2 separate regions of the Homo sapiens genome follow, and region 2 is reported to be linked to region 1. The links are microRNA targets in miRTarBase. Many come from high-throughput screens and were not tested one by one. Region 1 holds a microRNA gene; the other region holds the end of a gene's coding sequence.
What was found. The annotated mature microRNA hsa-miR-6883-5p reads AGGGAGGGUGUGGUAUGGAUGU and lies in region 1 at 3,607-3,628, opposite strand. An mRNA with a match to its seed (bases 2 to 7 or 8) in the 3' UTR can be bound and repressed. Matches are read on the target gene's strand: a 7mer-m8 pairs with bases 2 to 8, a 7mer-A1 pairs with bases 2 to 7 and ends in A, and an 8mer does both.

Region 1 (5,072 bases):
GTACTCCCAAGAAGCACCAGTCCACACAGATGCACCTGCGGTCCAACAAGGTTGGACAGTGCCTTGTGCCCTCTACCCAGATGCCGTTACAGGACAGTCACAATGCATATTAGCATAGGATAGGCTGTGAAAAGTTCTGCAAAGACTCACGCGGCTTAATATTCTATAATCCACAGCAAATTTAGTGGAATCAACATTCTTCAGAATTAATGATCCAAGGACATCAAGGAGATCAGCTCTTGGCCTCGATCCCTTGAACTTGAGCTCAATTCTTTTTTCTCCCCCTTGAACTTGAGCTCAATTCTTTTTTCTCCCCCTTGAACTTGAGCTCAATTCTTTTTTCTCCCCGTCCCAGGCTTCTCTCACCATCACATCAAGAGCCCGAGGCAGTTGGCCCTTCCGGACCCAGGAGTGCACAGCACCCAGTTCCCGCCGCTGGTCCTCAGAAAACCGAGGCTGCTGCTTCTGCATGGCTCGGAGCCGCTCCCGATCCTGCTTCAGCACAGAGGTCATGTCCCTGCCCAAGAAGGGGTTCAGAAGGCAGAGGCTGGGATCCAGGACCCGGACCAGGACCCATGAAGCTGGCATCCTTCCTCTACCACAGCTTCCCACCTCATGCTCCTCCCCTAAACTAGTGCTATGCGAGGTCAAGGCTTCCAAGACCAGGAAACCTGCTCTCCTCCTGGGAGGAACTAGTAACAGGGCTCCAAGGAGCAGGAAGAAAGATAGAAACGTTTATCCTATCCAGGGCAGAGCCAGCCCCAGAAAAGAAAACTGCCCCCACTACTACCTCTGAAAGGAAGGCCAAGAAGGCCTCTGAAATGCCTCACCTGGAGGGCACCTGGTAGGTCATCATGACGCGCTGGTCAGCATTGGCCATGAGCAGCCAAATGGGATCCTGGAGCACGTACTTAATCACCTGGTCCCCAGGCTCAGCCCCGCCCCGAGCAGCCCCAGCCTCAGCCTCGGAAGAGTCGATGCTGCCAAAGTATTTGCTTGTGTGGCTGCTCTGGCTGCTGCCTGTGAAGTGGGGGGCAGACCAATGGGAGTCAGGCCGGCTGCATGCCCACTCCTGGGACCTCACAAGGCCTCCCTCAAAGGCCACATGTCCATCCCAGTGGCCTTAGGAAGCTCCGCCAAGACGGGGCCTGGGCTCCCGGCTCCCCAATCACTGCCCTACCCTGGGAGATGCTGGAGGCGGGGTACTCACGAGTGATGCTGGCTGAGGTGCTGCCCCCTTCATGGGAGCCTGAACCAGACCCAGAGCCCAAGCCAGAGCCCAAGGAGCCCGAGGCTGCGGAGCCTGTGCCGGAGCGCGAGTCCTCTTGCAGCAGAAGTTCGAGCAGGTCACTGGAGCCGGAAAGTGCGTCCTGATTGGAGGACTCAGTGACCTCCGCCTGGAGGAGGGGAGGGGGGCAAGGAGGGATGGAGGGGTCAGCACCTAGGCCTCCCTTCAACTGCTCTTACTGGTTGTGGGGAGAGGCACATCCAACCCCAGTGGTCTCTGCTCCCCACTTCGTGACAGTAGGGCCAGGCTGAGAGAGAAGAAAGCTGGCGAAGAGTGGGGATGTGAGGCCAGACCCTTTCCAAGTGACAGATGCTCTCTCAGAAGTTATTGAGATGTCCTCACCACCTGTCAGACAGACAGGACTGTCCCTTCAAAGAGGAGGTAGCCAATTTCTGCCTCATTCAGAAATTCAGCTGGGGACTCCCTCCACCTCCTGGAGGCTGAGACGCCAGCCTGGCAGAGACAGCAGGCAGCACAGGGTGGCAGAGGGGCGGGGCTGGGGTGGGGGCTGGCAGGCAGACGCAGGGGTCAGTGCTCACCAGTCTGGCCTCTGGCTCAGCAGCCTCCGCACTGGGAGGTGGGGGCCCGGCACTGCTCCCAGGGCCTCCTGCAACAGCAGCCCCCTCAGCACGGGGGAGCTCCTCCAGCTGCAGCAGATTGAGCTGGAGTGGAGAGCTGCATCTCGAGTTGAACAGTGGAGAGTCCGGGCGGTGAGGAGGACTCGGGGCGAGGGCGGGCAAGGATGGAGAAGGGGAGTGCGAGGCAGGAGTGGGAGGCCCTTCAGCAGGGGTCTGGAGTGCCCCATAAGGATAGCTGGATGGGGTTGGGAACAGATAGTTAGGGAGCACCAAGGCCACCATTGGGGTCACCAAAGGGGCGGGGAAAGCAGCTGGGGGCACAGATGTGGGAGCAGGGGGAAGAGGCTGGGGGCCTCCTCGAGGAGAGAACACTGGGAGAGGGTAGGGCTGGACAACCGCTGGGAAGGGGGTAGTGGCTGGTGGGGTGGGCCAGGGGGTGGAGGGTGGCACGGGTGAGGGGTGTGAGACATAGCAGGGCGCTTCAGCCCGAGGGTTCTGGTGGTGGCGTGAGCGCTTGGCTTTGGATCGGCAGTGGTGTCGGCGGCTTGGGGGTGCGGGGCCGTGGTGGCAGCCTGTGGGGAGAGACTAGGGTTAGCAAGGACCTCAACCTGGGGTTAGTACCCCTGCTACCCACACTGCCCTGACACGCTGACCAGGGAGAGGACAGGCCAAGGTCCCAGAGAGAGCTTCTCAACCCACACAGAACGGGGGACTCAGGAGGTGGGGCACCTTCAGGGAAGAATCACAGGAGCCAGGGACAAGGGGATTTATTGAGAAAGGAACAAGGCCAGGGAGAGGTTACACGAGGGGTCGAGCTGGGGGTGTGCGGAAGATGGAGGCATGCTGGCAGATGGAGGAAGCAGGGTGAGTCCATGGACACATGGACAGATGGCTCTGGTCCGCCAAACTCCTGTGGGCACTGCCAGCCTAGGCATTCCTCCTGCCCATCGAGGCCGTATTCTGCCTAGCTTGCAATGGAGTGAAGAGTGGGGCTGGAAAGCCCAGTCCTGAGTCCTGCGTCTGCCTGCAGGGGATCTCCCTCAGGCACCTGGAGGGGCTGCCTTCCACCTGCCCTTGAAGCCCAGACCCCACCCAGAGTTGGCCCAGAATCTATGCATGTCTCTTCATCAGTGACAACTGACTCCTAAGTGGGCATACTTCCTGCCCCTGCCCCCAGGCTAGGCCTGAAGTCGCTTACCTGGAGACAGCACCTCTGCCTGCCCATCCCAGTGCCATCCCCCCAGGCTGCCCTCCTCTGGCTGCAGCCCGGAACCCCATCCTAGTGGGGAGAAGCTAGCGAGGGGCCTGTCCCTAGGCAGGGCCTAGTGGTGGAAGCAACACCAGCCTGGGTCCCTGGAGCAGAAACACCTCCCTTAAGACCCACCCCCCAACAATCCAGTCCTAGACTGGGCAGAGGGCAGGCTCCAGGAGGCCCCAGGTGGCTACCTCGCTCGCCAAGGGCTGAGGGAGCTGTGGAAGAGCTGTCGAGTCCACGCAGCCTGCCCAGGTCTCGGAAGCGGCTGAGGAAGGCTTGCTCTTCCTTCTGTGTGTGCAGGGACAGCACGGCCTTGGTCAGCCCCACTGGACGGTAGGCGTCTGGGGCTGGGTCAGGGGCTACTGTGGGGCTGGGGGCTGGGCTGGGGGCTGGGCCTGGGGCTAGGCCAGGCAGGTCCTCCATCATGATGATGTCTGAGGAGAGTGAGATAGGGAAAGGTCATCAGAACCACTTCAGGGGTCAACACATCCATACCACACCCTCCCTGTCTGATAGCCTAGCCAACCCCTGGCAGCTCTGCCCCACAGCCAAGCCTGGTCTCCATGTACGTTTCTTGGTCACCTCTCTGCCAACGGCTGGCCCTGGGTCCTCCTCTCCATGCAAAGCTGGCCCAGAAGAAGAGACGATACTCAGGCCCCTCCAGTGGCCACTCCCTGCCAGGAACTCTACTGGGATGACCCCGTCACAACTCTCATTGGAAGAGAAGCCCACCCCTTGGCCTTCCCTCACACATTTTCTTGTTTCTTTTTTTTTTTTTTTTTGACATGGAGTCTCACTCTTTCTCCCAAGCTGGAGTGCAGTGGTGCGATCTCAGCTCACTGCAACCACCACCCCCTGGGTTCAAGCGATTCTCCTGTCCCAGCCTCCCGAGTAGCTGGGACTACAGGCGCGCGCCACCACGCCCGGCTAATTTTTGCATTTTTAGTAGATACAGGGTTTCACCATGTTGCCCAGGCTGATCTCGAGCTCCTGATCTCAGGTGATCCTCCTACCTCAGCCTCCCAAAATGCTGGGATTACAGGCCTGAGCCACCATGCCCAGCCCCTCATGATTTTCAAGGTCAATATCCAAAGACCCTTCAGGGATGTTCAATTTTCCTTGCCTTCAGACCCTGTGTGGTCAGCACCTCAGGGCAAACCCTCTATCCCAGACTCTGTGTTTCAACTGACAGTAACAATACGAGAAGCAGAACAGGGGAAGGGCAAAGCCGAGAAGCCTGGCAGGGAGGGGAGAGCAAGAAGCAGTAGCCCCAAGCCCCAGGTCAAGGGAGGCCTCCTTCTCTCCATCAGGCCCTAGAGGGGAGGGGAAAGGCAGGAGGGAGCTCTAGCTGGGAGACCGGTGGAGCCCAAGCACTGCCCCCCAATTCCACACCCATACCCGACTCCGGGGGCTTCTTGTCTCCCACATGGACGATGGTGGAGCTGAAGCTACACTGACTGGTGACGGACACCACACTCTCCGCCTTATTGGCCAGGGCGAGCGGGCTCAGGGTGCCTCCCACCACTGGCTCCTTCCGTGGGGTGGCCCCCTCCCCAGACAGCGCTGCTGACGGCGGATCTGTGCAGAGAGATGGTGCCAGTTACCATCCCCACCCCCACTGGGAAGTCAGGAGAGAGGATCCCAGGGAAAAGGGGAAGGGGATGGTGGTAGGGAACAGAGGGAACAGTCTGGAGACCAGGAGGCTGGGGAGGAGAGCAGGGCAGAGCAAGAGGGCCCAGAAGCAGAAGGGAAAAGACACAGGGCCACCAGGCCAGGACGGGGCAGTGGGAGCAGGGTGCATTGGATCTTTACCTTTCTTGGTCCCCACAGAGACTGGACCTGTCCTCTGCCTGTCGTCGTCAGAGGCTGAGGAGGTGGTATAGGAGGAGGAGGAGGCACATTTACGCTTAGTGGTGCTGGGGAGGTTGCAGCTCTCCAGGTACCTGGGGAT
Region 2 (5,059 bases), not on the chromosome of region 1:
CTGTCTTAACCTGTTAAACCCATACTTTTGCTAAATCGGATATCTGGCTCAGTCAGTCTTGCAGTTGACAAGTTGAACTAAATATTAACAGTTTGCTTCTAGGGGCTGACCTGCCATGCCTGTAGGGTCTTAGGACCTTTCTAAGCACTTGATAAAGAATGGTGCATCTTATGGACTCCTAATATGTGAACAAATTAGCCCAGTGTAGGTCCTTCAGCTGTGGGTATCAGTGTTGCTCATTCATTCATTGCCATTGCCAGTTGGCGATTGGTACTGTGTTCCTAGAGTAGATCATAATGTTGTGTTTCTGTCCTTTGCTTCAGTGCCCATCTACGTGCCGTTCCTCATTGTTGGCTCCGTGTTTGTCGCCTTTATCATCTTGGGGTCCCTGGTGGCAGCCTGTTGCTGCAGATGTCTCCGGCCTAAGCAGGATCCCCAGCAGAGCCGAGCCCCAGGGGGTAACCGCTTGATGGAGACCATCCCCATGATCCCCAGTGCCAGCACCTCCCGGGGGTCGTCCTCACGCCAGTCCAGCACAGCTGCCAGTTCCAGCTCCAGCGCCAACTCAGGGGCCCGGGCGCCCCCAACAAGGTCACAGACCAACTGTTGCTTGCCGGAAGGGACCATGAACAACGTGTATGTCAACATGCCCACGAATTTCTCTGTGCTGAACTGTCAGCAGGCCACCCAGATTGTGCCACATCAAGGGCAGTATCTGCATCCCCCATACGTGGGGTACACGGTGCAGCACGACTCTGTGCCCATGACAGCTGTGCCACCTTTCATGGACGGCCTGCAGCCTGGCTACAGGCAGATTCAGTCCCCCTTCCCTCACACCAACAGTGAACAGAAGATGTACCCAGCGGTGACTGTATAACCGAGAGTCACTGGTGGGTTCCTTTACTGAAGGGAGACGAAGGCAGGGGTGGATTCTCGAGGTGGAAGTCCGCACATGTCGGTGGTATTTATGGCACGATTCCTTTGGATGGCTTCATTTGCCCCCAGACTGTATGAAAACATCTCCGAATTAGCATTTCTGGATATGTTTCATCCAGGGTATCATTGATTTATGATGGAAAACCGGCCTCAGCTGGAGATGACTGTGATGTTGCTGATGGGTGTATAACAAATGCTTGAGTCCGAAGTGCCCTTGAGATATGGTTGACGAAAGAATTTTATAAACTGATAAATTAAGGATTTTTATTATGTTGTTATTATTATTTCTTTTTTGTTGTTGACTGCACAGGATCAAAATGCCTGTTATCTCCCTTTTACCTGGGACTTTTTTTTTTTTTTTTTTTTTTTTTAATCAGACAGGGTCTTGCTCTGTTGCCCAGGCTGGAGTGCAGTGGTGCGATCTCGGCTCACTGCAACTTCAGCCTCCTGGATTCAGGCAACACTCCTGCCTCAGCCTCCCACGTGGCTGGGATTACAGGTGCCTGCCCCCATGGCTAATTTTTTGTATTTTTTGTAGAGATGGGGTTTCACCATGTTGGCTGGGCTGGTCTCACTCTCCTGACCTCAAGCAATCTGCCTGTCTCAGCCTCCCAAAGTGCTGGGATTACAGGCGTGAGCCACCGCCCCCAGCCTGAGCCTTTTTTTTTTTCTAATGCATCCAAGGTTAAGGGGAAGACGCAAATAACAGGACTATTCTAAAAGGAAACCTGTTTGAACTCTGTGAGATCAGTCATCAGTCTCAGTATTCCACAGGCACACCTTAATTTCATTGTAAAAAGATATATATATTTTGTCTATTTTTGTGCTTTTGGGGGCCTATTTTGTGCTTTTTTACCTTATGTAGAGATCTTATTACAAAGTGATTTTCTACATTAAAAAGAGACTGAAATAAATTGTATAGTTACTTAACTAATGAAGACATTTCAGAACTCTGGGATGATTTTAATCTTGAAGTAGTAGGTGGTATAGTCATAAAACCATTCATCCCCTTCTTGATTGTATCTTAATTTTCTGGCTTTAAGGTGACATCTGAGAGGTAATGCATTCTTTTTTATATTGAAATCATAAACTATCACCCGCTGCTTCTCTGAGTTACTTTTAATTTTGCCTTGTGGTTATGGTTTGGCGTTTCCTTCTGTTTGGTTTTCAGAGCCCCATGTCTATATAGTCCTGAGTGCAAGTAATTACTATACTTGTAAATGAAGATCAGTATTTCTGCCTAGATCTGATAAAAAAATTTTCTTGTCTTAGTTATAAAAATTCAAAGAAATGTGTTACAAAGATACTTAGTATAGCTCCTCAGCCATAACCTGAGACTTGGGATGAAATTTAAACCAGATACGATTTACTTTGCAGATCATAAGGCTTTTTATACTCTTGTTATCAAAATGGCTTATTTTTCAGGCACTAAGGATTGTTAAGAGAAAAGCTTTTCAACGAAGGATTGCCTTTCTTCTCCCACACTGTTCTTGATTTCCTCTCTCTTTCAGGCCTCAACAGGCACTGTATTCATTGCCAATGTTCCAAATTATCAAATTCAAGTGAATTTATTTGTGTGTTCTTTACTTATATAAAAAAAGATAACTTTAAGGATGTGCAAGTACATTTCCAACTGCTAGCACAACCAGTATTTTGTAATTAAACAAATCGCTGTATGGTATGGTCTTCTACACATTTATGTCTATAGATATCTATCGATCATCTTTCTATTCTGTTTCATGACTGAATAATGTAAAACCAGTGTTGGCAATTGGTATCATCAATGATACTCATTTTTTAATAACCAAAGGCAGGGGAAAATCATTTTACTTATTAATAAATATTTTATGATGTGAATTCCTAGCGGAGTTGGGTTTCTTTTTTCATTTTCATTGTACTTGGTAATTTTTCAGATGGTCTAGTCAACCCTGTTAATAGAATAAAATTTCTAAAAATTATGAATGTTGCTTTCTAGAACCAAGAGCCTATTTTTCAAAGTAATATCTGGGAAACTTACGTGAATGTTCTGAGTCAGTGAGTATTATTTTACAGGTTGACATGTTGACAACACAAAAGAAACAGTTCTTTTGGAATCATTATATTATGAGGCTAATGGGTGTTCCCTGTATTGTCTTTGATGGTGGATTCCTGCTTACCTCTGGAAGTGGAATTCCTAGAACTTTGGAATTTAAAGGGATCTCAGATGTCACCCAGCCTAAAGATTGGCAAGCTTTTTTTTTCAGTAAAAATCCAGAGTCTGGCTGGGCTCAGTGGCTCACCCCTGTGATGGCAGCAATTTGGGAGGCCAAGGCGGGAAGATCGCTGGAGACCAGGAGTTCCAGTCAAGCCTGGGCAACATAGCGAGACCCCATCTCTACAAAAAAAGAAAAAATAAATAAAAATTAGCTGGGCGTGGTGGCGTACTTGGTAGTATCAGTGATTTGGGAGGTTGAGGCATGAGGTTCACTTGCAAGCTCAGGAGTTGGAGGCAGCAGTGAGCTATGATTTCACTACTACATTCCAGCCTGGGTGACAGAGTGAAAACCTGTCTCCAAAAAAATAAGAAAAAAAGATCCTGAGAGTAAATATTTTAGGTTTTGCCAGCCATATGGTATCTAGCAGCCATTCACCTCTGCAGTAGCAGCACAAAAGCAGCCATACATAGATACACATAAACAAATGAGCAAGTCTGTATGCTCATAAGACCTTTTTTTTTTTTTTTTTTTTTTTTTTGAGATGGAGTCTCACTCTGTCGTCCAGGCTGGAGTGCAGTGGTGCGATCTCGGCTCACTGCAAGCTCCGCCTCCCGGGTTCACGCCATTCTCCTCATTCTCCTGCCTCACTCAGCCTCCTGAGTAGCTGGGACCACAGGCACCCGCCACCACGCCCGGCTAATTTTTTGTATTTTTAGTAGAGACGGGGTTTCACCGCGTTAGCTAGGATGGTCTCCATCTCCTGACCTCGTGAATCGCCCCCTCCGCCTCCCAAAGTGCTGGGATTATAGGCATGAGCCACCACGCCTGGCCAAAACCTTCTTTATATGCACTGAAATTCAAATTTCGCATGATTTTGACATGTCACAAAATAATCTTCAGTTTTTTTCCCGAAAACATTTCAAAATGTAATTGTAAGCTCCAGTGCTGTACAAAAGCAGGCAGTGAGCAGGATTTCCCTGGCAGGCTATAGTTTGTCAGTCCCTCATCTAATCCTCCTTTCCCCTATGCAGGAGTCACCTCTGTGGACATTTTTGGCACTCTTTTTTAAACAGGGATGGAAAATGCTTGCTTTTCTTAGCATGAGATTGTATAGTTCTTCTATGTGGTAATTAAATACCATGATTAAAGCAAAAAAAATACACCTTAATGAATGAATTTTTCATTTAGTGACTGCTACTTGGTTTTCCAAAAGTATAACATTATTAGAAGCAACCTCAGATCTTTTCAGTTTTGGTAAGAGCTGGAAAAATTTAGCTGACAAAGCAAAAATGTTCAACTACCTGTTTTAAGGACACCTTCCTTATCATGAAATATAAATCAGAACCTATAAAGGGTAATTTGCACCTTGTAGAAATATTCCAAATTCTGTCATTTGCAGATAGAAAAATAGTTTGCTGCTGTACATTTTCTGCTGTATCTAAACCTCTAGTGTCGGTTTATGATAGTTCTAGGGGATTCCATTTCCTGCTTATAGGACAGAGAAGCAGACTCTGACTGCAAAGAAGAAAAAATTAGCTCATTGTGTCTATGAAGAGCGTGAAAACTACGCATCTGTCATTTCTGCTGCCACTGGAGAAGTTAAGATTTAGCAATAAGATCAACATCCAAAGTGGCAAAAATACCATTAAGAAAAGTGTGTTTTGGTTTCGCGTATTTCCTCTGCAACACGCACTTTCATGTAGCCTTCCATTTCTGATTACATTCTCATAAGCTTGACTAATGAAATATTTCATCTATTAAATTGACCTTGAGCTCATTCTTTTAAGATTGCAGTTTTATTTCAAGAGCTCTGTAACCCATATTTTCTCCTTGTTTTGTTATAAATGCTGATTTTTGTTTTGTTTTGTTTTGTTTGAGACAGGGTCTCATTGTGTCACCCAGGCTAGAGTGCAGTGGTACCATCATAG

Region 2: miRTarBase lists SHISA2 as a target of hsa-miR-6883-5p. Seed matches in the 3' UTR shown: 7mer-A1 at 1,412-1,418 and 7mer-A1 at 1,544-1,550.

Annotation. Positions count from the first base shown.
Region 1 is chr17:8,141,439-8,146,510 of GRCh38, forward strand. It overlaps MIR6883 (microRNA 6883), which reads right to left and starts at 3,633; the gene lies at 3,556-3,633. It overlaps PER1 (period circadian regulator 1), which reads right to left. Exons shown (of 23, transcript NM_002616.3): 16 at 4,934-5,064; 17 at 4,520-4,699; 18 at 3,313-3,555; 19 at 1,828-2,438; 20 at 1,211-1,397; 21 at 831-1,020; 22 at 367-517.
Region 2 is chr13:26,042,331-26,047,389 of GRCh38, reverse strand. SHISA2 (shisa family member 2) reads left to right here. Exons shown (of 2, transcript NM_001007538.2): 2 at 324-2,793. The coding sequence ends at 877. Among named protein-coding and RNA genes, the nearest start is that of SHISA2, 7.2 kb to the left of the region's middle.